7 linked regions of the Homo sapiens genome follow. The protein of the gene in region 6 purifies or fractionates together with the protein of the main gene of each other region. This does not show direct contact. Each region holds a gene or a part of one and is shown on either strand. Other genes may lie near its edges.

What was found.
Region 1: the proteins of PDS5B (region 6) and SPINDOC purify together in Homo sapiens (affinity purification with mass spectrometry, with the first as the bait; one large-scale study listed by BioGRID). This does not show direct contact.
Region 2: the proteins of PDS5B (region 6) and ZSWIM7 purify together in Homo sapiens (co-immunoprecipitation; one large-scale study listed by IntAct). This does not show direct contact.
Region 3: the proteins of PDS5B (region 6) and CDC45 purify together in Homo sapiens (affinity purification with western blotting; one study listed by BioGRID and IntAct). This does not show direct contact.
Region 4: the proteins of PDS5B (region 6) and WFDC5 purify together in Homo sapiens (affinity purification with western blotting; one study listed by BioGRID). This does not show direct contact.
Region 5: the proteins of PDS5B (region 6) and STK38 purify together in Homo sapiens (affinity purification with mass spectrometry, with the first as the bait; one large-scale study listed by BioGRID). This does not show direct contact.
Region 7: the proteins of PDS5B (region 6) and RBM10 purify together in Homo sapiens (affinity purification with mass spectrometry, with the first as the bait; one large-scale study listed by BioGRID). This does not show direct contact.

Annotation. Positions count from the first base shown.
Region 1 is NC_000011.10:63,819,956-63,823,455, forward strand, and holds part of SPINDOC (spindlin interactor and repressor of chromatin-binding protein), read left to right. Parts: intron 1-2,675; exon of another isoform or gene 2,676-2,835; coding exon of another isoform or gene 2,836-2,893; intron 2,894-3,179; coding exon of another isoform or gene 3,180-3,201; exon of another isoform or gene 3,202-3,500. UniProt on the Homo sapiens protein: Chromatin protein that stabilizes SPIN1 and enhances its association with histone H3 trimethylated at both 'Lys-4' and 'Lys-9' (H3K4me3K9me3).
Region 2 is NC_000017.11:15,986,205-15,989,704, reverse strand, and holds part of ZSWIM7 (zinc finger SWIM domain-containing protein 7), read left to right. Parts: intron 1-2,336; coding exon 2,337-2,439; intron 2,440-3,500. UniProt on the Homo sapiens protein: Involved in early stages of the homologous recombination repair (HRR) pathway of double-stranded DNA breaks arising during DNA replication or induced by DNA-damaging agents. Required for meiotic progression, hence for fertility.
Region 3 is NC_000022.11:19,517,920-19,521,108, forward strand, and holds the end of CDC45 (cell division control protein 45 homolog), read left to right. Parts: intron 1-924; coding exon 925-989; 3' UTR 990-990; intron 991-2,561; 3' UTR 2,562-2,689; downstream 2,690-3,189. UniProt on the Homo sapiens protein: Required for initiation of chromosomal DNA replication. Core component of CDC45-MCM-GINS (CMG) helicase, the molecular machine that unwinds template DNA during replication, and around which the replisome is built.
Region 4 is NC_000020.11:45,112,375-45,116,510, reverse strand, and holds the start of WFDC5 (WAP four-disulfide core domain protein 5 precursor), read left to right. Parts: upstream 1-1,336; 5' UTR 1,337-1,427; coding exon 1,428-1,512; intron 1,513-3,985; exon of another isoform or gene 3,986-4,136.
Region 5 is NC_000006.12:36,498,980-36,502,479, forward strand, and holds part of STK38 (serine/threonine-protein kinase 38), read right to left. Parts: intron 1,012-3,500; coding exon 894-1,011; intron 1-893. UniProt on the Homo sapiens protein: Serine/threonine-protein kinase that acts as a negative regulator of MAP3K1/2 signaling. Converts MAP3K2 from its phosphorylated form to its non-phosphorylated form and inhibits autophosphorylation of MAP3K2.
Region 6 is NC_000013.11:32,589,452-32,592,951, forward strand, and holds part of PDS5B (sister chromatid cohesion protein PDS5 homolog B), read left to right. Parts: intron 1-3,500. UniProt on the Homo sapiens protein: Regulator of sister chromatid cohesion in mitosis which may stabilize cohesin complex association with chromatin. May couple sister chromatid cohesion during mitosis to DNA replication.
Region 7 is NC_000023.11:47,176,221-47,179,720, forward strand, and holds part of RBM10 (RNA-binding protein 10), read left to right. Parts: intron 1-279; coding exon 280-366; intron 367-2,882; coding exon 2,883-2,943; intron 2,944-3,098; coding exon 3,099-3,275; intron 3,276-3,325; exon of another isoform or gene 3,326-3,500. UniProt on the Homo sapiens protein: Binds to ssRNA containing the consensus sequence 5'-AGGUAA-3'. May be involved in post-transcriptional processing, most probably in mRNA splicing. Binds to RNA homopolymers, with a preference for poly(G) and poly(U) and little for poly(A).

The sequences.
Region 1 (3,500 bases), on a different chromosome or scaffold from region 6:
GATGGGGCCACTCAGCAATTCAGTTAGGTGTCCAGAGAATAGATAAGATGAGCAGTGGACAGACACCTCCAGGGGACACCAGCTCAGTAAATTGCCTCATAACAGCAGTAAGTGCTTGTGTTGTTTGGGCTCCTACTGAGTTTAAGAAGCTTACATACAAGGCAAGTCGTGGTGGCTCACGCCTGTAATCCCAGCACTTTGGCAGGCTGAGGCGGGCAGATCACCTGAGGTCGGGAGTTTGAGACCAACCTGGCCGATATGGCGAAACCTCATCTCTACTAAAAATATAAAAATTAGCCAGGTGTGGTGGCAGGCGCCTGTAATCCCAGCTACTTGGGAGGCTGAGGCAGGAGAATTGCTTGAACCTGGGAGGTGGAAGTTGCAGTGAGCCGAGATTGCGCCACTGCACTCCAGCCTGGGCAACAGAGTGAAACTCTGTCTCCAAAAAAAAAAAAAAAAAAGAAGCTTACATACAGTTTATTTGGCCCTTACAAAAATAACTTGTATAGAAGGGCAGATGTCCATTCCTTTTTCCAAAAGGGAAAACCATTTCTCAAAGAAATGGTTCCTTCTTCCCCATGGTCCTTATGTCAGTTTCCTATTTGCTGCTGTAACAAATCACACAAATCTAATGGCTTAAAACAACACACATCGGGCCGGGCGCGGTGGCTCACGCCTGTAATCCCAGCACTTTGGGAGGCTGAGACGGGCGGATCACGAGGTCAGGAGATCGAGACCATCCTGGCTAACACGGTGAAACCCCGTCTCTACTAAAAATACAAAAATTAGCCGGGCATGGTGGCGCACGCCTGTAGTCCCAGCTACACGGGAGGCTGAGGCAGGAGAATGGCGTGAACCCGGGAGGCGGAGCTTGCAGTGAGTCGAGATCGCGCCACTGCACTCCAGCCTGGGCGACAGAGCGAAACTCCGTCTCAAAAAAAAAAAAAAAAAACAACACACATCGCTTGTGCCTGTAGTCCCAGCCACTTGGGAGGCTGAGACAGGAGGATTGTTTCAGCCCAGGAGTTCAAGGCTGCAATGAGCTATGATCACACCACTGCACTCCAGCCTGGACGACAGAACGAGACCCTCTCTAAAAACAAAACAAAACCCAAATTTATTATTTTACAGTTCTGGAGGTCAGAGGTCCAAAATGGGTCTCACTGAGCTAAAATCAAGCTGTTGGCAGGGCTGTGTTCCTTCCTGGAAGCTCTAGGGGAAAATCTATTTTCTTGACTTGCCCAGCTCCTAGAGGCTGCCTGCATTTCTTGGCTTGTGGCCTCCTTCCATCTTCAAAGCCAGCAGTGGCTAGTAGAGTCTTTCTCAGATACTGTCCTGGGTTCCGGCTCATCTGCCTCTTCCCCATTCAAGGACCCTCATGATTATATTGGGCTACTCAGTCCAGGATAATCTCTTTTTGAGTCCGCTGATGAGCAACCTTAATTTCATCTGTAACCTTCATTCCCCTTTGCCATGTAACAAAACATTCACGGGTTCCAGGGATTAGGGTGAGGGGCATCATTCTGCCAACCACACATGACCCAGCAGACAGAATTAGGATGAGACTGGAATGTAGTCCAGCAGGGCAGAGACCAAGCCTAGTCCTCTGTTCACCTCTCCATGCCAAGCATAGTTTACAGGCGCTCAGGAAATGCTTCTTGAAGAAGTGAATAGGTAGGAGTGCACGTCTCCTTGTACCAACTTGTCTGAAATGTGTGTTTGAAACTAGAGCCATAGAATGATGGCCAACGAGGTGGCTGGAGGCTCTCCTGAGAGTAGGGCTCTCAAAAAGCAGGTGTGCTTTTGTTTTTGTTTTTTGAGACAGAGTCCCTGCCCAGGCTGGAGTACCATGGCGCCATCATAGCTCACTGCAACCTCAAACTCCCAGGCTCAAGCAGTCCTCCTGCCACAGCCTCCTGAGTAGCTGGGACCACAGGTGTGCATCTCCACACCAGGCTAATTCTTAAATTTTTTGTAGAGACAGGTTTTCACTGTGTTGCCCAAGCTAGTCTCCAACTCCTGGGTGCAAGCAGTCCTCCCACCTGGGCCTCCCAAAGTTCTGGGATGACAGGTGTGCTTTTTTGCATAAAGAAAAAAGCCTTGGCTAGGCACAGTGGCTCACAGACCTGTCATTCCCAGCACTTTAGGATGCCAAAGTGGGAAGATTGCCTGAGGCTAGGTGTTCGAGACCAACCTGAGCAACATAAGGAGACTCCATCTCTAGAAAAATTTTTTAAATTAACTGGGCATGTTGGTGTGCACCTCTAGTCCCTACTAAGACTAGAGGCTAAGGCAAGAGGATCACTTGAGCCCAAGAATTTGAGGTTGCAGTAAATTCTGATTGTACTCCAATCAGATTGTACTACTGTACTCCAGCCTGGGCAACTGAGCTAGACTGTCTAAAAAAAAAAAAAAAAAAAAAAAAGAAACAAAGAAAAAAGGCAGCGTATTATGTACTCCTTTAGTCACACTCCACTCACCCCTCACAAAGTTTTTCTTTGTGTTCACTGCTATACCACTCTTAATTTGGTTTGTATCCTTCAGAGAGAGCTCTCTGTGTGTTTGCGTGTGTGTGTAGTTGCTTTTGTTTATTTGCCTAAATTTGAGCCCCCCGTTTTCTGATCTCGAGGCAGGCCTCACCCCTTCACGTAGATCACAGTTTTAACTGTCTCAAGTTTCAGCTTGAGTCACATTCCAGTCCTGGCTCCCTGAGACCGAGTGTGCTGCTTGGACTTGAGCGTGTCCCGAGTCTCCTGGTCCTCTCCGGTGGATCCCTGCTCTAAATGGCTGACCTCTTCCACTGTCTAATGGGTCTTCTGATTTCATTCTCGAAAGGGAGCCCTCATTTCAAGTCCTGGGGTACCCTGTGCGCAAACTCCATCTATCTGGAGTGGTGAGTAGATGAGAAGAGAATCCCTGAGATTCTAGGTTTCTTTGGGGTGAGTGGGCAAAGTCTGAGAGGAAGGGGCTTCAGCAGGCTGCTTGAGTGATCTGAGGGGGCGGAGGCAATTGTAGGGTGTTGTCAGCAGTGGCAGCCTTCGTGGAGGTTGGAGATGCCTGGGAAACCATAGAGGATACCTCACTGGTACACAAGTGTTCCTGGAGCCTGTGCCCGAGGGAGGCACCCTGGGAGATGGCATGAGTGAGACAGCCTTTGTCCCCCAAAATTCTGTGTCCAGGTATATAGGCTGGAGGCAGTAAATCTTTAAAAACCAGGGGCCCCCGTGGCGGTTCTTTGCGGAGCAGAGGCTCTGGACCTGTGGTTTCAGACGATCTCACGAACCCAAAGCTTGGACAGATTTCTCAGAAACCTGTGAGGCTTCGACCAAAATGTCTCTACTTTCTGTGTTGTTATGTACGTATTGAAGTTCTCTGAAGACTTTATTTAAATAAAGATCCTGCCACTTTAAAAAAAATTAGAGGTGTAAAAATCGTGGATTTAACAGTTGGAAAAGGCCACCTGTGGTCAGGTTAGCTGAGCTGATGAATGTGAATGTGAG
Region 2 (3,500 bases), on a different chromosome or scaffold from region 6:
GAGCCATGATTGCACCACTGGAATCCAGCCTGCCTGGGTGACAGAGAGAGACTTTGTCTCAAAAAACAAAAAACAAACAAACAAAAAGGCCAGACACGCTGGCTCACACCTGTAACCCCAGCACTTTGAGAGGCCAAGGCGGGGGGATCACCTCAGGTCAGGAGTTCAAGACCACCCTGACCAACATGGCAAAAGCCCATCTCTACTAAAAAATACAAAAATTACCTGGGCATGGTGGCCTGCACCTATAATCCCAGCTACTCAGGAGGCTGGGCCGGAGAATCTCTTGAACCCCGGAGGCAGAAGTTGCAGTGAGCCGAGATTGTGCCACTGCTCTCCAGCCTGGACACCAGAGTGAGACTCCATCTCAAAAAAAAAAAAAATTAAACTTTTAATTTTGACATAATTGTAGGTTTCCTTTAAAAAAGTTAACATGCTTGAGAGTTCCTAAAATATAATTTTGTCTTCAACCTTTCTCACCTAATATTATAAGAATTTTCTCACATATCAAAGTTTTTTCCTGTATATCATTTAACAGTTGGATAGCCTTATTACTAATCCAAAAAGTACACATTTATTATCTTCAGATGGGCAACATAAAAAAGCCTGATAATACTGGTGTTAGTGGGGACATGGAGAAAGTAGAAGTTGGTTTTTCTGTTTGTTTGTTTCATTTATTTTTTTTTTGAGACGGAGTCTCCCTGTTACCTGGGCCAGAGTGTAGTGGCGCGATCTTGGCTCACCGCAACCTCCACCTCCCGGATTCAAGCGATTCTCCTGCCTCAGCCTCCTGAGTAGCTGGGACTACAGGCGTGTGCCACCACGCCCGGCTAATTTTTTGTATTTTTAGTAGAGACGGGGTTTCACCATGTTAGCCAGGATGGTCTCGATCTCCTGACCTCTGGTGATCTGCCTGCCTCGGCCTCCCAAAGTGCTAGGATTACAGGTATGAGCCACCGCGCCCGGCCTGAGAAAATAGAAGTCTTATACAGTGCTGGTGGGAGTGCTGTTTTCACTTTTTTGTGTGTTTTAGTTTTTTTTTTTCTTTTTTCTTTAGAGATGGGGTGTCACTACATTGCTCAGGCTGGTCTTGAACTCCTGGACTCAAGTGATCCTCTTGCCTCAGCCTTCCAAAATGCTGGGATTACAGGCATGAGCCACCACTCCTGTTTCCACTTTGGAGAGCTATTGGCAATATCTATTAAAGTTGAAAATGAACATATGCTTTAGTTACATAAACTAAAGGGGGATTTTCAGAGATGTATGCCAAGGGACATGTATGGGGATAATTGAATATTATTTATAATAGTATAAAATGGAAACAATGTCCATACATAGAGTACTTAAATAAAATTCAGTGTATACATATAATGGAATATTATTCAAAGGTAAAGTAAAAATAAATGTCCGTCAACATGCCTCATTTTCAAAAATGCATTGAGTAAAAAAATGCAAGTTGCCAAAAGAAGTCTACGATATTTTATATTTTCTTTTATTTTTCATGAGCTATTTCAGGAACAGCAAAAAGAAGCCTACAATATACCTTTTATGTTTTAAAACAATACTATATATGTATATGCATACATCTATGCACGTGTGTTTGTTATGTATGTGTGCATACATATGTTCTATATATAATATTTAATATGAACACATTAACAGGAAGGAAACCAACAAATGCATGTGCTTGCCTCAGGGATAAGGGGAAGGTAGGAAGAAGGATGCACTACAGAGAAGTATAAAGAGGGCTTCTTTATCACTAACAGTTTACTCCCTTTATTAAAAATATAATACAGGCCAGGCGCAGTGGCTCACACCTGTAATCCCAGCACTTTGGGAGGCCGAGGCAGGTGGATCACCTGAGGTCTGGAGTTTGAGAGCAGCCTGACCAACATGGAGAAACCCTGTTTCTACTAAAAATACAAAATTAGCCGGGTGTGGTGGCACATGCCTGCAATCCCAGCTACTTGGGAGGCTGAGGCAGGAGAATCGCTTGAACTCGGGAGGCAGAGGTTACGGTGAGCCAAGATTGCGCCATTGCACTCCAGCCTGGGCAGCAAAAGAAAAACTCCATCTCAAAAAATAATAATAATAATAAATAAATATATATACACACACACATATATACATAATACAAGAAGATCTGAAATAAGTACACAAGATATTAACATTAATTCTGGGGAGTGAATGGGTCCATGGGTTTTGCTGTATTATTTTCCTTTTTTCAAAATTAAAATGAATTTTTAAAAAATACTAAGTCTAGTGATCCTTTGGGCAAGTTACTGAGGTGACTTTGAGAATCAGGCCTTCTAATCTGAAGTGTTTTTATTTCACAGGCTGAAGTTTCTCTTTGGCTCATCAGCCACCCAGGCCTTGGACCTAGTTGATCGACAGTCCATCACCTTAATCTCATCACCCAGTGGAAGGCGTGTTTACCAGGTAGAAGTCTAGAGATGGGGGTGATCCCTACAGAAACCCCTTAGGACAAAATGTTCTTCATCTCTGTAGAAGCTGTTGACTAGCTTTAAATATTTCCTGGACTGTTAAAAGGCTTTTGCCCCAACTTGGTAAAATTAACGAATTGATAATTTTTTAAAATTTTTATTTACTTTTAACTGACAGAAACTGTCTATATTCATGGTATATAACATGATGTTTTGATATATGGATACCTTGTAGAATAACTAAATCAAGCTAATTAACATATCTAATACCTTATATACTTCTTTTTTTGTGGTGAGATCACTTAAAATCCATTATCTTAGCAATCTTCAAATATACAGTACTTCAGTCTTTTTCTTGGTTTTTATAGAGACAGGGTCTCACTATGTTGCCCAGGCTGGTCTCAAACTCCTAGGTTCAAGCGATCCTCCCACCTTGGCCTCTCACAATATTGGGATTACAGGTATGAGCACCATCCCCGCCAATACTTTGTTATTAAATATATTCACCATGTTGTACCATAGATACCCTGAACTTATTTCTCCTAACTGAAATTTTGTACCCTTTGACCAATATCTCCTTATCTTCCTCTTCCTCCCCCACCCCAAGGCCCCTGGTAACCACTATTTCTTTTTCTATGAGTTCAACTTTTTTTTTTGTTTTAAATAAAGACAGGGTCTTGCTATGTTGCCCAAGCTGGTCTTGAACTCCTGGCCTCAAGCAGTCCTCCCCCTTCAGCCTCCCAAAGTGCTAGGATTACAGGCATGAGCCATTGCACCCAGCCTATGAGTTCAACTTTTTTTAGATTCCACATATAAGTGAGATCATGTGGTATTTGTCATTCTGTACCTGGCTTATTTCACTTAGCATAGTTTCACTTAACAAAATCCTCCAGAAATTTTTGTAACTAAAATAAGATGGCCAGGCGTGGTGGCTCACGCCTGTAATCCCAGCACTTTGGGAGGCCGAGGCAGGTGGATCACCTGAGGTCAGGAGTTCAAGACCAGCCTGGCCAACGTGGTGAAACCCCGTGTCTACTAAAAATACAAAAATTAGCT
Region 3 (3,189 bases), on a different chromosome or scaffold from region 6:
AGGATATTTTCTTGCCTCATCACCACGGATTCCTCAACAATGATAGACACTGTCATGGGAGATCCAGCCTTTGTTGAAGTGGCGTCAGCCATCTCAGAGCTGCCTTCCTTGAGCCAGACCCAGCCATGGCTGTGGCACTGTGTGGCATTGGTTCACCCCGCACAGCAGCCCCTGCTAACTCTTTTGTGCCTGTGATGTGGGAGAGGTGGATGGACACCCACTGGCCTGCAGAATATCTGGCCTTCAGTATACAGGGAGGACTCGGGCTGGGAACTGCTTGGTTTCCCTGAGGGTGGAGAGCCAGGGGTGAGGGTGCAGAGTGGGCCATGTCTAGTGCCCACCTGCGTGGGCTGGGTCTGGGGCTCTCGGGGCTGTGGCTGGCAGCATAGATGGCTCCCAGGGCCAGGCCAGCCCCATCCTGGGGCCTGGTTTTGCTTTGTGGTGAGGGTCTGGGTGCTCAGCTGAGCCTGAGGGCCCTGTGAGATATGGGCAGTTTGCACCATGTCCCCTTGTGCGGAAGAGAACACTGAAGCCGAGGAATTGGCCAGAGTGCGGCCAAAAGTGACCTGCCCCACCCAAGGACTTCCACAACCCACTCTGGGGACGGGGGTTCATGCCAGCTGGGGTGGGCAGGCCCGTGTTTGTCCAGGTCTGTAGGGCCCTTCCCTGTGTCACCTCTATTGTCTTCCCGGGGGGGAGTTCTCCCTGCAGGCCCCAACCCTGACCTCTCTAGCAGTGCAGACAGCAGTTGTGAAGATGAAGTACAGTGAGACAGACACAACCACTGAGTGCAGAATACCACAGGCCGGGAGGAGCCGCGCACTTTGGAATGCAGTGGAGGGCAGGCAGCGGAGGGGAGTTCTGTGCCCTGTCTTGTGTTCCCACTCCTCCCTTCTCACGGCTGTTTTTCTTTCATTACTTCAGTAATTGAGCTGAAAGCTGAGGATCGGAGCAAGTTTCTGGACGCACTTATTTCCCTCCTGTCCTAGGGTGAGTTACAGGGGTTCTGCAGGGGTGGCTGCAGCAGCCCCCTCAGAGCCCGACCCTGATGCCCTGCTCTGTCCTCCCTCAACGGAGGCTTCTACTTGGGTTTCAGACCGAAGCAGGGTTCTTGAGATTGGAGCCAACACATTTTTCCCAAGCACATCTGTCCTTAGGCTGCCAGCAGGGCCACAATGGGGCATTTTGAGGCAGCTAATTTCATTAAGCCCCTGCGATCCCTTCAGAAAGAGCTGGTATTCACCCTCTGCTGACCACACTTGGGCTGGGCATCGCGTGTGACACATGTCACACACAGACTCCCTGGTGCTGCCCTCGAAGGCCACCTGGAGCCTCCTGTCCCACAGCCTTCGTGTCAGGCGCTGGGCAAGAGCCCGCAGAGCAGCCATCCGGGCTTTTGTGTGCTTGGCTCATGAGAAAGCAAAGCTGTTGGCAGCCGCTTAGCTGGGAATTCCAAAGCGCTGGTTCTGCTGGGGCCTTCACCAGCACACAGCTGTCCTGAGGGCCCCATTGGGATTCACTGGCAGGTCACTGTCCCGGGACACCTCCCACTGCCCCATGTGCTACCTCTTTCTTAAGGGTTCCCAGGAAATAGGCCTGCCTTGTGTCTTTGTAACCATCTCTCAGCCCAGGTTCCCCACAGGGAATGCCACATCCAGCCCTGCATCTCCCAGAGCCCTAGCCTGGAGGCTGCGGCTGTGGCAGATGGGCCCTGCCAAGACTCTGTTGCAGGAGGTCCCTCAGGCCAGGCCTGGGGTCCTCCCCACTCTCCCATCCGTCCGTCCATCCATCCATCTGTCCATCCCTCCAGGGGCAAGCACCTGTTCTCCTGTTGGGGCTGGAGTGGGGGTTTCTGCTGACAACAGCATAGGGGGCCTCAGGGACCCCACAGTTCCTCTCAGGGTGGCCTGGGCTACATGGGGCCCATTTTGGGCGCGGGGCTCTGAGTCAGACCCTCGGGGTTTTTGGCAAGTTCTGTAGGGTCATCAGCAGTGACCTTGGGCCAGCCACCTAATCAGGCTTAGCCTGTTTCCTCATCCAAAAATGGGGCCCACTCTCTCCTTAGACGATGAGTGTGAGCATCACAGGACTGCATAGGGTGGGGCGGAGGCAGAGGTGGGGCTCTCTGGCAGTGGAGTGGGTGCTAGAGGCAAACCCCTCCCCTGCAGCCTGCTTGGTGGTGATGTTATGCTGCTGTGTGTCCTTCCACTGAGGCAGGGGCACAGGTGGCCTGGGCTAGGAGGGCTGAGCAGCAGAGTGCCGAGGGATGGAGGGAGAGCCCCCATGGGAGGGTGCCAGGGGGCTGGCTGAGCAGCTGGGCGGGGTCCGTGAGGTAAGAAGGTGCCCGGGCCAGGGGGCAGGAGCTCTGATGTAGGACAGCTCAGCCCAGTCAAGGGGTGCTATGAGGACAGCAGGGGCCTCCGAGTCTGGGGTGGCCTCACCCCCACAAGCAGTCCTGGCTACTCAGCAGCACTACCCAGAGGGGACGCCTGGGCAGTTTCTTCAATTCGGTGGCACATCAACATCGTTTGAAACTTGTTTTTTCTTGTTTTGTTTTCTAGAATTTGATTCTTCCAGAATGACCTTCTTATTTATGTAACTGGCTTTCATTTAGATTGTAAGTTATGGACATGATTTGAGATGTAGAAGCCATTTTTTATTAAATAAAATGCTTATTTTAGGCTCCGTCCCCATTGTGGCTCTGGTCTCGAGGCCAGTGCTTGAGTGTGCTCTGAGCCTTCTGTGGGTCTTGGGCCCCAGGAGCCCTCAGTGCCTGGCAGGAAATCAGCATGGGGATTGGCCCCAAGGACAAGATCTCCTTACTCTGTCCTCCAGGCCCTCCGGGTGGCAGTGGACAGAGGTCAGGACCCCTCGGCATCCCCGCCTCCTCATAGCACCTGCACCGGCCACTGCCTGGTGGTGCCAGCCAGCACCTGGCTCTGTCCACCTACCACTTCCTCTGGTCCACCTGGCCTCAGCCACATAGCAAGTCCACCCTCTCAGCCATCCCTCCACCTGTGGGTCTCACCATCCAGCACTCTTTTCCAGGTCTTTGAAGGCAGGAGTGATTTGGGTAGGTTTTAAGTCAGTGGGGAAAAGCTCAGAAAGAGTGGCCTGGAAAAGAGCACACAGGTAGGTGGGGCTGGTCTTGGTGCAGCCCTTGGCAAAGGGCAGTGGGCACAAAAGGGT
Region 4 (4,136 bases), on a different chromosome or scaffold from region 6:
AAGAGAAAGGAAAGAAAGAGAGGAAAGAAGGAAAGAAAGAAGAAAGAAATGAAAAAAGGAAAGAAAGAAAAAGAAAAAGAAAGAAAGAAAAGAAAAAAGAAAGAAAGAGGGAGGGAGGGGTGGAGGGAGGGAGGGGTGGAGGGAGGGAGGAAGGAAGGGCTCATATATTTGTCCTCCAAAATAAAGCTTCCAAGGAGGTGCCAGCATTCCAAAAGCAACATCAGATCATAGAAGACAGAGCCTCTCCTATCTTAATAGCTTAGAAGACAGCACGAGAGATTCACATTAAACCCAAGGAAGAACTTCCTGCTGCCAGGGCTGTCCTGGATTGGAATGGGTAAGTGAGACAAGCCCTGTAATATCACCCTCCTTTCTCAGGATCAGATGAGGTATTGACCTGCTTTTAAAACCCAGGAACTGAATGAGGGTGATGGGGAGGCCACAGTGGGAAGTCCCAGCTTAGTCAGGAATTAGCTGCGTGTCCTTGGGCCAGTCCCCTCTCATCTCTATCTCACAGTTTCCTCGTCTTTCAAATGAGAAGGCTGAGAGAATGTACTTCGATGGAGTTTCTGTTTAGGATGTCCCTTAGGATGCCAAGTCTCAGCTCCCTCTCTTCTACCAAATGCAGGAGGCAACATCAGAGATACGAAATCTAAGGTGGGGGTCCCTGGATGAGATGACATTTTTTTGCTCAGGATCCCTTAGGGCCAGAGAAGAGGTTCCAGTGGCCACACATCTGCTGTGACCAGCAAACTTAGCCAAGCCAAAAGCCATGCTCCCCCACCCTCAACAGCCAAGCCAGCCCCAGGAAGAGGGCAGTTCTATCAGAAGCCACTGGTGATCTCACCAAAGGCGGGGTGGTCTTTCTCCCATCCACAGGACCCAAGAGGAGAGGCCAGGGCTGGCCTCACTCATTATGCCAGCCTGGGCCAGCCTTCTTTGGCTGCAAGCTCTGGCCTAACCCTAATGCCTTCTCCCTTCCTAGGCATCCAGAACTCTGCAAACCCCCACTCCTTTGCTATTCAAAGCTGACCTCTACCCGCTGCCTAGACATCGCTGGGGCTTCAACATCTTTGAGAGCCAGGATAGCAAGCATCTGCCTCAACAACCTTCACCCTGTGTACAGATGAAAAAACTGAAGCCCAGAGAGACAAGACTTGCCCAAGATCACAGCCCAAGTCACCGATACAGGCAAGACTGGATCTGAGTCCCCCACATGCAGGATGTGCCGCCACCCTATCTTCAGCTATTGTGACAGCATCCCTTGCACTGAGTCCTCGGGCCCTCAGGGGGTGGGGCCAAGATGAAGCAGGCACGGTGTCACTCCACACCCCCTCTCTTTCCTCTCCTGACTAAGTTTCTCTGGCTTCCCTGAGGCTGCAGGTGTTAATCTGGGGGGCCCTGGGCCCTGAGCCGGCAGCAGAAATATGAGGACCCAGAGCCTTCTCCTCCTGGGGGCCCTCCTGGCTGTGGGGAGTCAGCTGCCTGCTGTCTTTGGCAGGAAGAAGGGAGGTGAGTGCGGGAAATCCCTCTGCTGGGGGGACCAGATTGTCTCTACTTCTCTAGGGAGAGTAAGGGTTTGGGGGAAGGCAGGTAATGCCCTGTGGGGTGTGTGTGCGCGTGTGTGTGTGCGTGCGTGCGTGTGTGTATGTGTGGATGCCTGATTCTTAGTGCTTTCAGAAGCCTGTGTTTTTATGTGTGTACATTTGTGCCTGTCCACCTGCCTGTGTTGGTATCTGTAAGTGTCTTTTCTGCCAGTTTCTCGGTGCTTGTCTGTGCCTGTCTATATGTCAGGGGGTGGCAGGGCGGGGAATGCATGTGCCTGTGTCTGTGTAGACATGTGTCTTTGCGTCTGCTTGTCTGTGCAAAGCTCTGTCTGCACACGTACACTTAGGAATGGCTGCACGCATGTGTCTGAGCTTGGTGCCTGTCCATGTGTGTCTCTGTGCCTTCAGGTGTGGGGAGGGACCCTGTCTGTGCCTGCTGGGCTGTGGTGTGACTGGGTCAGTGGGTCCACCACCCCATCTGTGGAAGGGACTTGGGAATTGAGGAGAGGGTGTGGCTTCTGGGATCTGGGCTTTGTGGGGAGGAAGCTCTGTCTCTAACTCTCATCGCCCCCAACCTCCTGTCCCCATTCCCACCCCTGACAAGGCTGGGGCTGGCCTGCTGACAGGTGAGGGAGGGCTGCTGAGTGGCTAGACAGGTGACTCCTGATCTGGGTGAGGCCTCCACCTGCGTCCTTTTCTGGGGCTGGAACACTCCAACCTACATTCACCTGTGCAACCCTTGCCCTGCCTTAAAGAAAGGGGACAGTAATGGGGACAGGCTGAGGAAGGAAGTACACTGGTGAGCTCCAAGGCTGGACCCTGTGTTGGCTGTGATTCATGCACCATCATCACGTAACTCCTCGACAAGGTGCTGTGAGGACAGGACTATTTTCATCCCCATTTTGCAGATGAGGAAAATTGAGGCATAGCGGGGAACCACTTAACAAGGTCAAAGACTGACTCTGAGTTAGTGCCAAATGTGGCATTTGAATGCAAGTATTTGAAATCAGAAAGATTCACCTTACCAACTATTACAGCAAAAACCCAGGACTGTACAGGACAATGCACCCCCAACATAGGAAGGAGCTGAGAGACCAGAGAATGACTTAGACAAGGCCAGATTAGCAAGTGCATGAGTGCAAGTATTTGAAATCAGAAAGATTCACTTTACCAACTATTACAGCAAAAACCCAGGACTGTACAGGACAATGCACCCCCAACATAGGAAGGAGCTGAGAGAACAAAGAATGACTTAGACAAGGCCAGATTGGCAAGTGCATGAGTTTATTAGGACTTCCAGGCAGGACACTCCTGGAAGGCAACAGGACAGGTCTGGAGACTTACTCCTTGTAAAATGGGGTCCCATGCCTCTCTCTCAGGAGTAAATGGTGTCTCGAGGAATAAGGGCCTGGCACACAGTAAGCACAGCATAAGTGGGTGATTTGGGGGAGTCATTGTGTTCCCAGGGAGCACACCCCAATATTCAGCCCAGCTGCTCAGAGGCAAAGAGCTGGCACAGCAGAAACCGAGCCTGCGCAGGGCCACTCTGCATGGGCAGGTGTGACAAGCTTGTCTCTCCCCCAGTTCACCACACCTTGTCCCCCACTGGTTTCTCTCCTGTAAGACATTGCCGAGCTGTTGGTAGAATTTCAGACAATGGAGGAAGGTGACGAAGCCAAGGGAAGGGAAGTCTCAGTTTGTTGCCTGTGGAAGCCCAGCCGCCTCTGTTTATAAGAGCTCCCCATTCTGCCCCCTTCTCACTCAAACGTCTGGGTGTCTCTGATACAAAGAGCCTGGCATAGTCCCTGATAAACAGCAAGTGCCTAATTAAATGCTGTCAGTGGTTATGTGGTATTGGGAAGATATATGTGTCTGTGTAGCTCTGTGCATATGATTCTGTATATATGACTGTGTATGCTTATGTATGTCTCTCTGTTCACATACATATGCTATATATTTATATATTTATATACATAACTGTGTGTGTCTGAGTGTCTATCTGTGTGTATGTATCTATGTGGGTAGGCATGTGTAAATGACAGTGATTATGTTCCAGCTCATATGTACATACATGACTGCCTGTTTATATATGTTTATAAATATATTGCATATATATAACTCTCTGATATATGTCCATATGTATATATGTGTGTATTAAGTTGAACCATGTAAAATTGCTACTTTTGTAGATAAAACAGTTGACTATCTGCAGTTTCCTACTGTTAAGCCTGTAGCTAATTGTGTGTCTAGATCTAAATGTGCTTGTGTATTTGACTATGTGTGTATCGTCTGTGTGTACAAGTGTATATATTTAACCATGTTTGGATACGATTCTTTTGCTCTCTAAGTCTACACACCCATGGCGCATGCATCTGGATGACCATCTGTGTGTGTGACTGTCTCGATGTACACATCTGTGAGTGGAGAACCTGGTTTGGAGGGACTGTTAGGAAAGGCAGGCAAACAGAGTGAGTGTGACCACCCAGAGCCTCTCACGCCGGCTCTGCACACGCCAGGCTTTTATCCCCACCTCCACATTGCAGCTATCGCAGTTCTTCCACTGGAAATGCCAGCTGTCATGCCCCATCC
Region 5 (3,500 bases), on a different chromosome or scaffold from region 6:
ACCTAAACCTATTTTTCATTTTCCCCCAAACTCCCAGACCCAAAGTGAAATCATGCCTCTGGTACCACTAGGAAGTCAGCTAATAGGTAGAGCTGGGAAAAGAAAGGAGGACATAAATAGAGTTGCAGGTGTGGGAATCACCATGCCCAAAGAAGAAATGAAAGGATGAAACAATATCATTCCAGAAATACCCTTATATGGGTAAAGTACCAAATAACTTGAATAAGAAAAAAGCATAGATTTTAAAAATGACCACCATGCCTCTTTTTGAGAACTACAGGCAAGAAGACAAACACGCACACACCCTATCACCCCATCTTCCCTCCAGACGGTGTACGCCCACCTCCACAGGCATCGTTCCCATGTTCCTGAAGCCAAAGCAGCCAGATAGACTCACCCGGAACCACCAAGGATATACTTAATCTAGTGCTCACTGGCATATGACCACCCCCACAGATGCGTCCCATAAATACAGAGACACACCAATACAATAAGAGGGAGAGAGGCCAGAGGGTCCCATGATTTGAAGGCTTTGACAGAGGAAGGGGGCGGCAAATTAGGAAAGTGAGGCAATGCCCAGTTGAAGTGCTCTGCATACAACGGATATTTAATAAATGCTAGTGACTAAAAGAGCTTCTAGATGGAGAAGATGAAGGTATAAGAGAAAGAAAAACATAAAAAATGATCAGCAAAGCAATTGCAGGATGCCAGTAAGCCCAAGAATGGAGTGGGATACATCTTACTGAAAGAGGTGTCATCTGTCTAAAACAATTCACTTTGAAAGACAAGTAGGGAAATCACTTAGATCACTGCCAATTGAAACAGAGGCTGGTATCAATGTAAAAGTCTGTCATGGATGCACAGAAAAAGTCCTCTGAAACCATGCAACTTACCGATGAGCATCTCATACATGATCACCCCAAGCGACCACCAATCACAGAGCTTGTTGTACCCGGTCTGCATGAACACCTCAGGAGCAATGTAGTCAGGAGTGCCTACTGTGGAGAAGGCCTGAAACATGGACCACACATCAGCGAGGCCCAGCCAGGCAGGAGGTGCCCAGAGTTCTGTTCTAGAAACCAAAGGCTATGAGTAACATCAGAAGCTACCCCCAAGCTAAATAAGCAGGACTGCCCAGTAGCTTAATGGCAAGCTCGATTTCCCAAAGCACTTTCCAAAATGAACAATAAAGCTTTGTTCATGAGGCAGGAGACCCTTAACTATGAGTCACTAGGGCGAAGGCATCTGTGTCATAATAACTGGTATTACAATTTACTGAGCACCCATTAAGTACTAGGCTCTGTACTTAATATATATATTACATGAGTTTTATATATATATATAACTTCATATACATGAGTCCATTTAATCCTGACAAAACTTTTCCAAGGAGGACCTTATTAGCTTAACTTTGCAGATACAATTTGATGCTCAAAATGGCTTTGCCTGAGACCGCAGAACTAGTTAGGTGGTAGAGCCCAGTTTAAAAATTAAATATCTGGCCGGGAGTGGTGGTTCACGCCTGTAATCCCAGCACTTTGAGAGGCTGAGGTGGGCGGATCACGAGGTCAAGAGATGGAGACCATCCTGGCCAACATGGTGAAAACCCGTCTCTACTAAAAATACAAAAATTAGCTGGGCGTGGTGGTGTGCACCTGTAGTCCTAGCTTCTCGGGAGGCTGAGGCAGGAGAATCGCTTGAACCCGGGAGGCGGAGGTTGCAGTGAGCCGAGATCGTGCCACTGCACTCCAGCCTGGCGACAGAGTGAGACTCTGTCTCAAAAAAAAAAAAAAAAAAAAATAGGAATTATAGTATCTTACTCCAAACCATCCCTCTTTCTATGATACACATTCTTTGATTTGACACAATCATAAAGGGAAGCTATATGATCAAAAGCTAAAGTTATATCCTATAACTTAAACATTTATAAATACCTATTTACCAAACTTAATTGTTTTTGTATATAGTTCTTGGAGGAATGTTTTCTTTTTCTAAGAAATGGGGGTCTCCCTTTGTGGGCCCAGGCTGGAGTGCAGTGGCACGATGATGGCTCACCTCAAACTCCTAGGCTCAAGAGATCCTCCCACCTCAGCCACCATAGTAGCTAGGACCACAGGTGCATGCCACCACACCTGGCTAATTTTTTAATTTTTTTGTAGAGATGGGGTTTTGCCATCTTGCCCAGACTGGTCTTTAACTCCTGGCTCAAGTGATCCTCCCACCTCAGCCTCCCAAAGTGCTGGGATTACAGGTGTGAGCCACCGCACCTGACCAAGAGAAACATTTTCTGCATTCCAGTATTCTACTCTAACATACCAGGACTGCAAAATAAGAGGAGAAAGTACAATCAAAGCCTCCTAATGTACTTAACATTTGAGGGCTTCCATGTGTAAGGCTCTGATCTAGGTGCTTTAAATATTATATAATTTTTTAAATTACAGTTGTATTGTTTTTAAAACATGTATTATGAAATATTACAAACATACAGAAAAAAGGAACAGACAATACAATACAGACCCATTACCCACATTAAAAAGATTAATAATTTGCCATATTTGTCTCAGATCATTTGTCTTTTTTTTTTTTTTTGAGATGAACCACACCTGGCTAATTTTTTGTATTTTTAGTAGAGACAGGGTTTCACCACATTGGCCAGGCTGGTCACAAACTCCTGACCTCAAGTGATCCACCCACCTCAGCCTCCCAAAGTACTGGGATTACAGGAGTGAGCCACCGCAACCGGCCTTGTTTGTCTTAACATTCGTTTTGAGATTTATTCATGTAGCTCTAGTTCACTCATTTCTCTGCCGTATGCTATACTGTTATATAAATTAGTCACAATAGTTTTTATCCGTTCTTCTGTAATGGACAGTTACAGTGCTTCCAGTATTTCACTATGACAAATAACACCTGAATAAACATTCTTTTAATACCTTCTTGGGCACTGTGCAAGCATTCCTCTAGAGTATTAACTAGAATATTGCTGAGCCTTGGGTTATAAGCATTTAAACTTGAGGTATCTTCCATGTCCTCCAAAGTAGTTAGTCCCTATTTAAACCAACCCCGGTGGGGATTAGCTTCTGGTACTCCATATCTCATCAAGACTTGGCTTTGTCAGATTTTTTTTTATTTTTACCAATCTGATGAATATGAAATGGGATCTCTTTTTTTTTCTTTTTAAGAGATGGGGTCTTGCTCTGTCACCCGGGCTGGAGTGCAGTGGTATGATCATAGCTCACTGCAGCCTTGAAATCCTGGCCTCAAGGGATTCTCCTGCCTCAGCCTCCTGAGTAGCTGGGACTGTAGGGATGTGCCAGCATGGCTGGGATCTTGTTTTAATTTGCATTTACTTTATTTCAAGTAGGGTTGAGCACATATTCATATTTTAATTAGCCATCCAGGTTTTTATTATGAATTCCTATTCAGATCCTTTGTCCATTAGTATTTTTTAAGTTGTGTTGTCCTTTTTCTTATTGATTCATAGGAATTCTTTATGAATT
Region 6 (3,500 bases):
TTAGGTTGTCTCAGAAGATAGCCTCTTGTAGGTCTCTGTCTCCGGGAGCCGTCTTTCTTTATGTAACATTACTTGACATGGCATTTATTTATTCTTTGTGAAACTTCTAAGAGTAATTTGGGAAAGTTAGTATTGACCTTTGTTTTGTTACAAGATATAGTGCGTGCATGAGTATGCGTGTATTTTTTCATTTTTAAACTCAGTTTGCTACACAAGTCATCTGTCACTTCTAGTTACAATAGGCGTTTTACTTGGTTTTCGTATTCCTGTTCGGGAATGTTAAAGATTCCAAAAATACTTAGTTTAAAAACAAGCCCAGTAGTTTCTCTGAGAGTGTATTTACTTTTTAAGAAGCTGCCAAATGGTTCGCAATTCTGACTCCTTGGAGAGTAGAGGTAAGAAGCCCTTTCCTCACACTGTTCTGTTACAACCACTTGATTCTAACCATTTCCCCCATTACTTGAAAAAGGTTTTAGAATCCTTTCTCATTAATTAGTTCAGAATTAAGAATAAATTTGCTGTGTTGAGACTGTAATTGTTTTAGCTGGCATGAGTGATCGTGCACAGTGAAAAAATCATGATAATAAAACTTAGATGAATAAAATTTATTTGTTCAAATCTTAAAGCCTTTGAGGTTTAAAAAGTATAATCATTGTGTTCTAATAATTAGACATTAATAATAAGTAGTAATTAAAAATACTTGGTTTAGCTATGTAAAACATAAAAGCTAACAGGCTTGGGGGAAAGACTGATTAAAGTAAGAAACTATTTTGAGGCATCTTTTTAAGGACTAAAAGTATTCCACTAGCCTGCCATTCTCTTTTTTGACGGATAATTACCTGATTCAATTAAAATGAACAGGTACAAAACTTCCATATACATACAGTACCAGGGATGATGCACTAAACAGGACTGAAGACACCCTGTCCTATAGAAGTGCAGAGTAGTGGTTGGCCATCCACAGCAAGGTGATGAGAGCTGAGACAGACCAGAGAGTAGGATCTCTGCTGTTACTTAGTTCCGAAGGAGCAGGCCCTCCTTCCTTTTCAGTGGCAGTTGAGGTTGCTCTTTTTATGTGGGAGAGTGAAATTAGCCAAGATTAGATCCCATAAGGAGAAGGAGGGGCTCTTATAACCAAGACCATTGTCTTTCTCTAGAAGAGGATGGTTAGGGACCTGAAAAGAAATGAGATTTTGTGTTTCCTTAGGTAAGATAGGATTCTTTCTCCTCAGAGGTGATTTTAGGGAAGTAATTGAAGATATTTTAAAGGAAAGCTCCATATCTCCAAAATATTATTTAGTAGCTGAAGTTCTACCAGGTAGTTTCAGTTAGCTTTCAGATATGGGATGCTTTGGGTTGGGTGTGGGGGTGAGAGTTGCAGGGGCAAGTTGCAGGGGCAAGATGCTGGGCAAATTGCAGGGGTGAGAGTTGCAGGCCTTAAGTACTCTATTAGGGGAATAGAGTACCTAAAGAATTGTGTATTTTAAGTTAAAAGTTATACAGGTATATGGTAAAAAAAAAAAAAATTTAATGATAGAGTAAAAAATGTTACTTTTTTCCTCCCCCCACAGGTAATCCACTGTTAACAGTTTCTTAAAAGTTTACTTTAAAAAAAATTGTACAAAGAGTATTGTTATACTGTTGTACTGTAATTTACTATTTTATTTATTTATTTTATTATTATTATTATTTTTTGAGATGGAGTCTCGCTCCGTTGCCCAGACTGGAGTGCAGTGGGGCAATCTTGGCTCACCACAACCTCCACCTCCTGGGTTCAAGTGATTCTCCTTCCTCAGCCTCCTGAGTAACTGGGACTACAGGCGTGTGCCACCATGCCCAGATAATTTTTGTATTTTTAGTAGAGACTGTGTTGGCCAGGCTGGTCTCAAACTCCTGACCTCGTGATCCGCCCGCCTCGGCCTCCCAAAGTGCTGAGATTACAGGCATGAGCCACCACGTCCGGCCTACTGTTTTATTTTTTAACTGTGATTTACTTTTTTCCTTAGTTAAGTCACAAGCTCTTTTCATACTGGCACATACAGATCAACATAATTAAGAAATAATAAGAATATTTTATTATAACATAATTTATTTTTTCTGACTCCTGTTGAGTAGTACTACGTTGTAATAGTTTACATTGACCAGCAGCGTATGAGAATGCCTGTGACATGTATTTACCAACATTGGACTTTAAAAAACTATATTGCCAATTTGATATATGAAATTTGTCTTGTTTTGGGTTTGTATTTCTTTGTGAGTGAAGGTAAACATTTGTTTATATGCTTATTAGGGGGAGGCCATTTGCAACATATTCTTTAATCAAGTGGTTTAATGCTAGTTTAATTTACTTGCTGCCCCCACCACCTACCTTCACCCTTACCTAAGAGCTAAGATGGTCTGAGAGAAGTGGGACTTTAAGAAGAGGAAAAATATTTTGGGGCTCATGGCACCTTGACGGGGAGCAATGCTCTGAATGGAGAGGCTACAGCACCTGGCTTTGAACAACTCTGGGTCAGTATGAGAGTATTGAAAGCCCTTGACTTGGTGTAAACATAAGGTAGAAGAGAAGCTGAAGCGACACACAGGAAGGGAGATTTGAGAGTCAGGGCAAATAAATTTTGTATAGAGTCAACCCCACCTTGTACCATCTGCTTATCCTGTCTCATCACTTCTCCCTCCCACCTTCAACTATCATTTCATTTTTATTCATACTGTCATTTGGTTTTCTCCTCTTTTCCTGTCAGGCATGGCAGCCTGGACCTGGGTATTTCAAATGCCCCAGAGATGAGGTGTGCTTAGTTTTTGGTTTTCTTTTTTTTTGAGACGGAGTTTCGCACTTGTTGCACAGGCTGGAATGCAGTGGTGTGATCTCGGCTCACTGCAGCCTCGGCCTTGGCAGGTTCAGGCGATTCTCCTGCCTCAGCCTTCTGAGTAGCTGGGACTACAGGTGCACGCCACCACGTCTGGCTAATTTTTTGCATTTTTAGTAGAGACAGGGTTTCACCATGCTGGCCAGGCTGGTCTCGAACTCCTGGCCTCAGGTGATCTGCCCGCCTTGGCCTCTCAAAGTGCTGGAATTACAGGCGTGAGCCACTGCGCCCTGGCCTAAGTAGAAGCTCTTGAGCACTTTTTCCCCCTCTGTCTCTTTGGTACTATTCCTTTCAGCTTTCGACTCTCCTAGCCTTCTGGGGTAACATAAATAGGTCAAGTCTTTATAGCTGTAGTTGGAATTCGGAAGGTCACTGGCATTTAAGACTTGAACATAGGAGCATATATCACAATATATGCTCCTATGATATATCAGGATGTGATGCTTGATAAGTGGGGTCCCTTTCTAAGGAATGCAGAAGAGCATGGTGGTTAATTTAAGCATATAGACTTAAGAGTCAAGACAGCTTGGGTTTTTATCTCCTCTAGCTAAACAAGCAATTACCTAATCTTACTAAATCTCAACTTCTTAATCTGAACAGTGGGACTAACAGCAGAAACCTCATTTTTAA
Region 7 (3,500 bases), on a different chromosome or scaffold from region 6:
TGTCCGGCAAGCGTCGGTCAGCCGAACACTGTGTGCCTGGTGGTGTGTGTTCACATGTGTGCGTGCGTGTGCCCGGCAGAGCAGCAAACAGCTGCGCCCGAGAGCTGTGGCGCTTTCCCTCCCTACCTCCCTTCTTCCCTCCATCCGCTCTCCGACCTCCCTCCGTTCCCTGTCCCTCATCCATCCAGCTGAAGGGCTCGCTCACTCTCTTCTCCTATGCTGAAACGGTGCGTGGGGCACTGCTGCCTGGACCTCACTGTGCTCTGCTTTTTCCCGCAGCACTCCCTCAACATCCTGGGCCAGAAGGTGTCGATGCACTACAGTGACCCCAAGCCCAAGATCAATGAGGACTGGCTGTGCAATAAGGTACAGGGGCGGTGGGCAGCAGTTGTCATGGACAGAGACAGCAACAGCAGTGGCGGCGATCTCTCCCTTCCTCTCCCGCTCTTTCTCCCTCCATCTCTCCCCCTCCCCCAATCTCTCCTCTCCCTCTGTCTCTCTCTCTCTCTCTCTCTCTCTCTCTCATTCTCTATCCCTTGCTAGCTCAGCTTGAGTAGTCACCATTCCTAGCCAGCCATATACAAATGTGTAGTGAGCGTTCACTTGGTGCAGGCTCTGTCCTCCTAAAATGCAGTCTTGCCTGGAGTTCCAGTAGACTTTAAGGAAATATATACGTGGATGATGAATTAGTGACAGTGTAGACTTGAAGTGGTGGTGTGGAGAATGTGGGCTTCAGAGCCAGACTGGCTGAAATGAGACTATCCCAGATCGGCCTTGATTTTGGCCAAGGTGCTTAGCCTCTCTTTGCCTCACTTTCCCCATCTCTAAAATGTGAATATTAATGACACCTCTCCCAAAAGGTGGTTGGGAGGATTCAGCTGTGTTAATGAGAGAGTAACACTCAGAACAGTGCCTGGCCCACATTTAACACAGTCGAATTGTTAACTGTAATCATGAAAGAAAAGCACAGAGCGTTCTGAGAGCCCATAGCAGGTAGCTCAAGCCTGAAGGCCACTCTGACCAGGCCAAGTCAAACCTGAAACTGGAGGCTGTGGTTTTGTAGTCACCTCTGTCTTCCCTGAGGGGAAGCTGAGGCTCAGAGAGGTGGAACCATGGGTGAACCTTTAGCTGTGCCCTGTGCCTTGCTCCTGATCACAGGGACTTGGATGCCACAGTGGCTTCAGGTCTGCCCTGGGGCCAGCATTGTGATTCCACAGTTTGTAGAGGCCCCAACCCTCTCCCCAGGAAGTACTCTGCCTAGTCAGGGAGAGTGGTGCATCTGTTTTAAAAAAAAAAGTCCCATCAGAGGATTGGTGCTTAACATTTCTGGAGAGATAAAGACAAAGTGACAGTGGAACTCCTTCCTGTGTTTCCAGATAGCCTCAAAACCAGGGAATTCTCTTTTTTTTTTTTTTGAGACAGGATCTGGCTCTGTCGCCCAGGCTGGAGTGCAGCAATCTGGGCTCACTGCAACCTCTGTCTCCAGCGCTCAAGCCATCAGCCTCCAGAGTAGCTGGGACCACAGGCGCATGCCACCACACCCACTAATTTTTGCCTTTTTATTTTTATTTTTTTTGGTAGAGACAGGGTTTCGTCATGTTTGCCAGGCTGGTCTTGAACTCCTGAGCTCAAGCAGTCCTCACGCCTCAGCCTCCCAAAGTGCTGGGATTACAGGCGTGAGCCACCACGCCCAGCCCAAAACCAGGGAATTCTCTTGAACTCCTTCCCCTCCCCTGCATCCTGTTGGCCACCAGGTCCTGTCACTTCCATCACAGAAACGCCACCTTCCCTCCCTCGCCATTCCCGCTGCTCATGCCAATCGTCACGCTCTCACCCACTCACTGTGGAGCCCTCTCTGGTATGCTGGCCTCTTGTCCTCTTTCTCCCACGCCCTCACCTGGAACATTCCTCAAAACCACCTCTGACTACCCACGCCTCTCCTCCTCTGCTTAACCAGCCCCAGCTCAGCTTAAGCATAAGATCCTCCATTACCTAACTGGCTTCCTTCCCCGGCCTTGGCTTTTGCTTCTCCCCTTACTCTCCCACACCAGTTTCGGAAAGTCCATTGTTCCCTCCGATAACAATCCCTCCCCAGCAAGGCTTAACAAAATGAAACTTCTGGGCATCCCAGGTCAAACCTCCCTGCTTCTGTGCAGGGACTGTCCCTGCCGAGTAAATGGCACCCCACCCCCAGCCCATTTCCCTCCCCGAGCCCCTGCTGGATGGTCCATGCAGACCGACCTGCCCCTCTTCATGCTGCATCTGCCCCTGTGCTATTAGGCCATGAGGGCAGAGACCATGTTCTGGCCATGTGCAGCAGGGCCTGGCCCAGGAGTGGTGCTTAGTACCTGAGTCTGGAACAGAGATGGAGTGTGGTAGAAGCTGGGTCTCCAGATGCTGGAACATTCAAGGAAAATTTCTCAAGCGTAGCAGGATCCAACCCAGTCCTAGAGCTAAGAGGAGGGGTGCGGGTCTGGCTACTGACTTCTAGGGCTGAAACACTGAAAGGTTTCTGAATAGAGGAGCAAGTTTCAGGGAGAGGAACCTAATAAAGGGATTGAATACCTGAGGCGGGGAACAGTCCTGGGAGTTGGTGGCCTTAAGAAGGCAGAGGAAGGAGAGGAGGGAGTTGTTGTACCAAATGGGGGAGTTGTTTATTCCTGAGCTGAGTGGGTTGGCACAGAGGACAAATGAGAGTCTGGAAAGGGAAGATGCACAGTACTGAGAACAACATCAGAAGGTTCAGAAGGCACCTGCCACCATTGCCTAGGGGCTTTCCTTCCTGGGGCACTGCGGGGTCCCTGGGAGATCTCTTCATCCAAGTTTGGAGGGTGCAGTGGGAAATCCCTGCTCCCTCTGACGGCCTGGCCTGTGCCTCACAGTGTGGCGTCCAGAACTTCAAACGCCGAGAGAAGTGCTTCAAATGTGGCGTGCCCAAGTCAGGTGAGGCCCACCTACCTCTCGTGCTCTCCAGGGCGGAGCGGTTGGGGAGAAGGGAAGGGTGAGGGGTCTGTGCTCAGGGCTTGGTATAGGGAGGAGGGTGACCAGTCGTGGAGCCTTCCCCTTATCACCAGCCTGTCTCCCACTGCCCCTGACAGAGGCAGAGCAGAAGCTGCCCCTCGGCACGAGGCTGGATCAGCAGACACTGCCACTGGGTGGCCGGGAGCTGAGCCAGGGCCTGCTTCCCCTGCCGCAGCCCTACCAGGCCCAGGGAGTCCTGGCCTCCCAAGCCCTGTCACAGGGCTCGGAGCCAAGCTCAGAGAACGCCAATGACAGTGAGTCAGTTGTTCCTTCTTCCTCTGTGCCCTAGGGTGTCGGGCTGGGCTCACCAAGACCAGAGAAATGGCAGTGAGCAGGACCTCATCCTCATGGAATCTCCACTTGGTGCGGGGATAGACATTTGATGTAGGGAGAACAGGGGGAGTGGCAACATCCCACCTGACTTTGGGGGTGTGTCGGGAAGGTTCTCAGCAGACAGGCAGCCAGGCTGGCACCTGGAC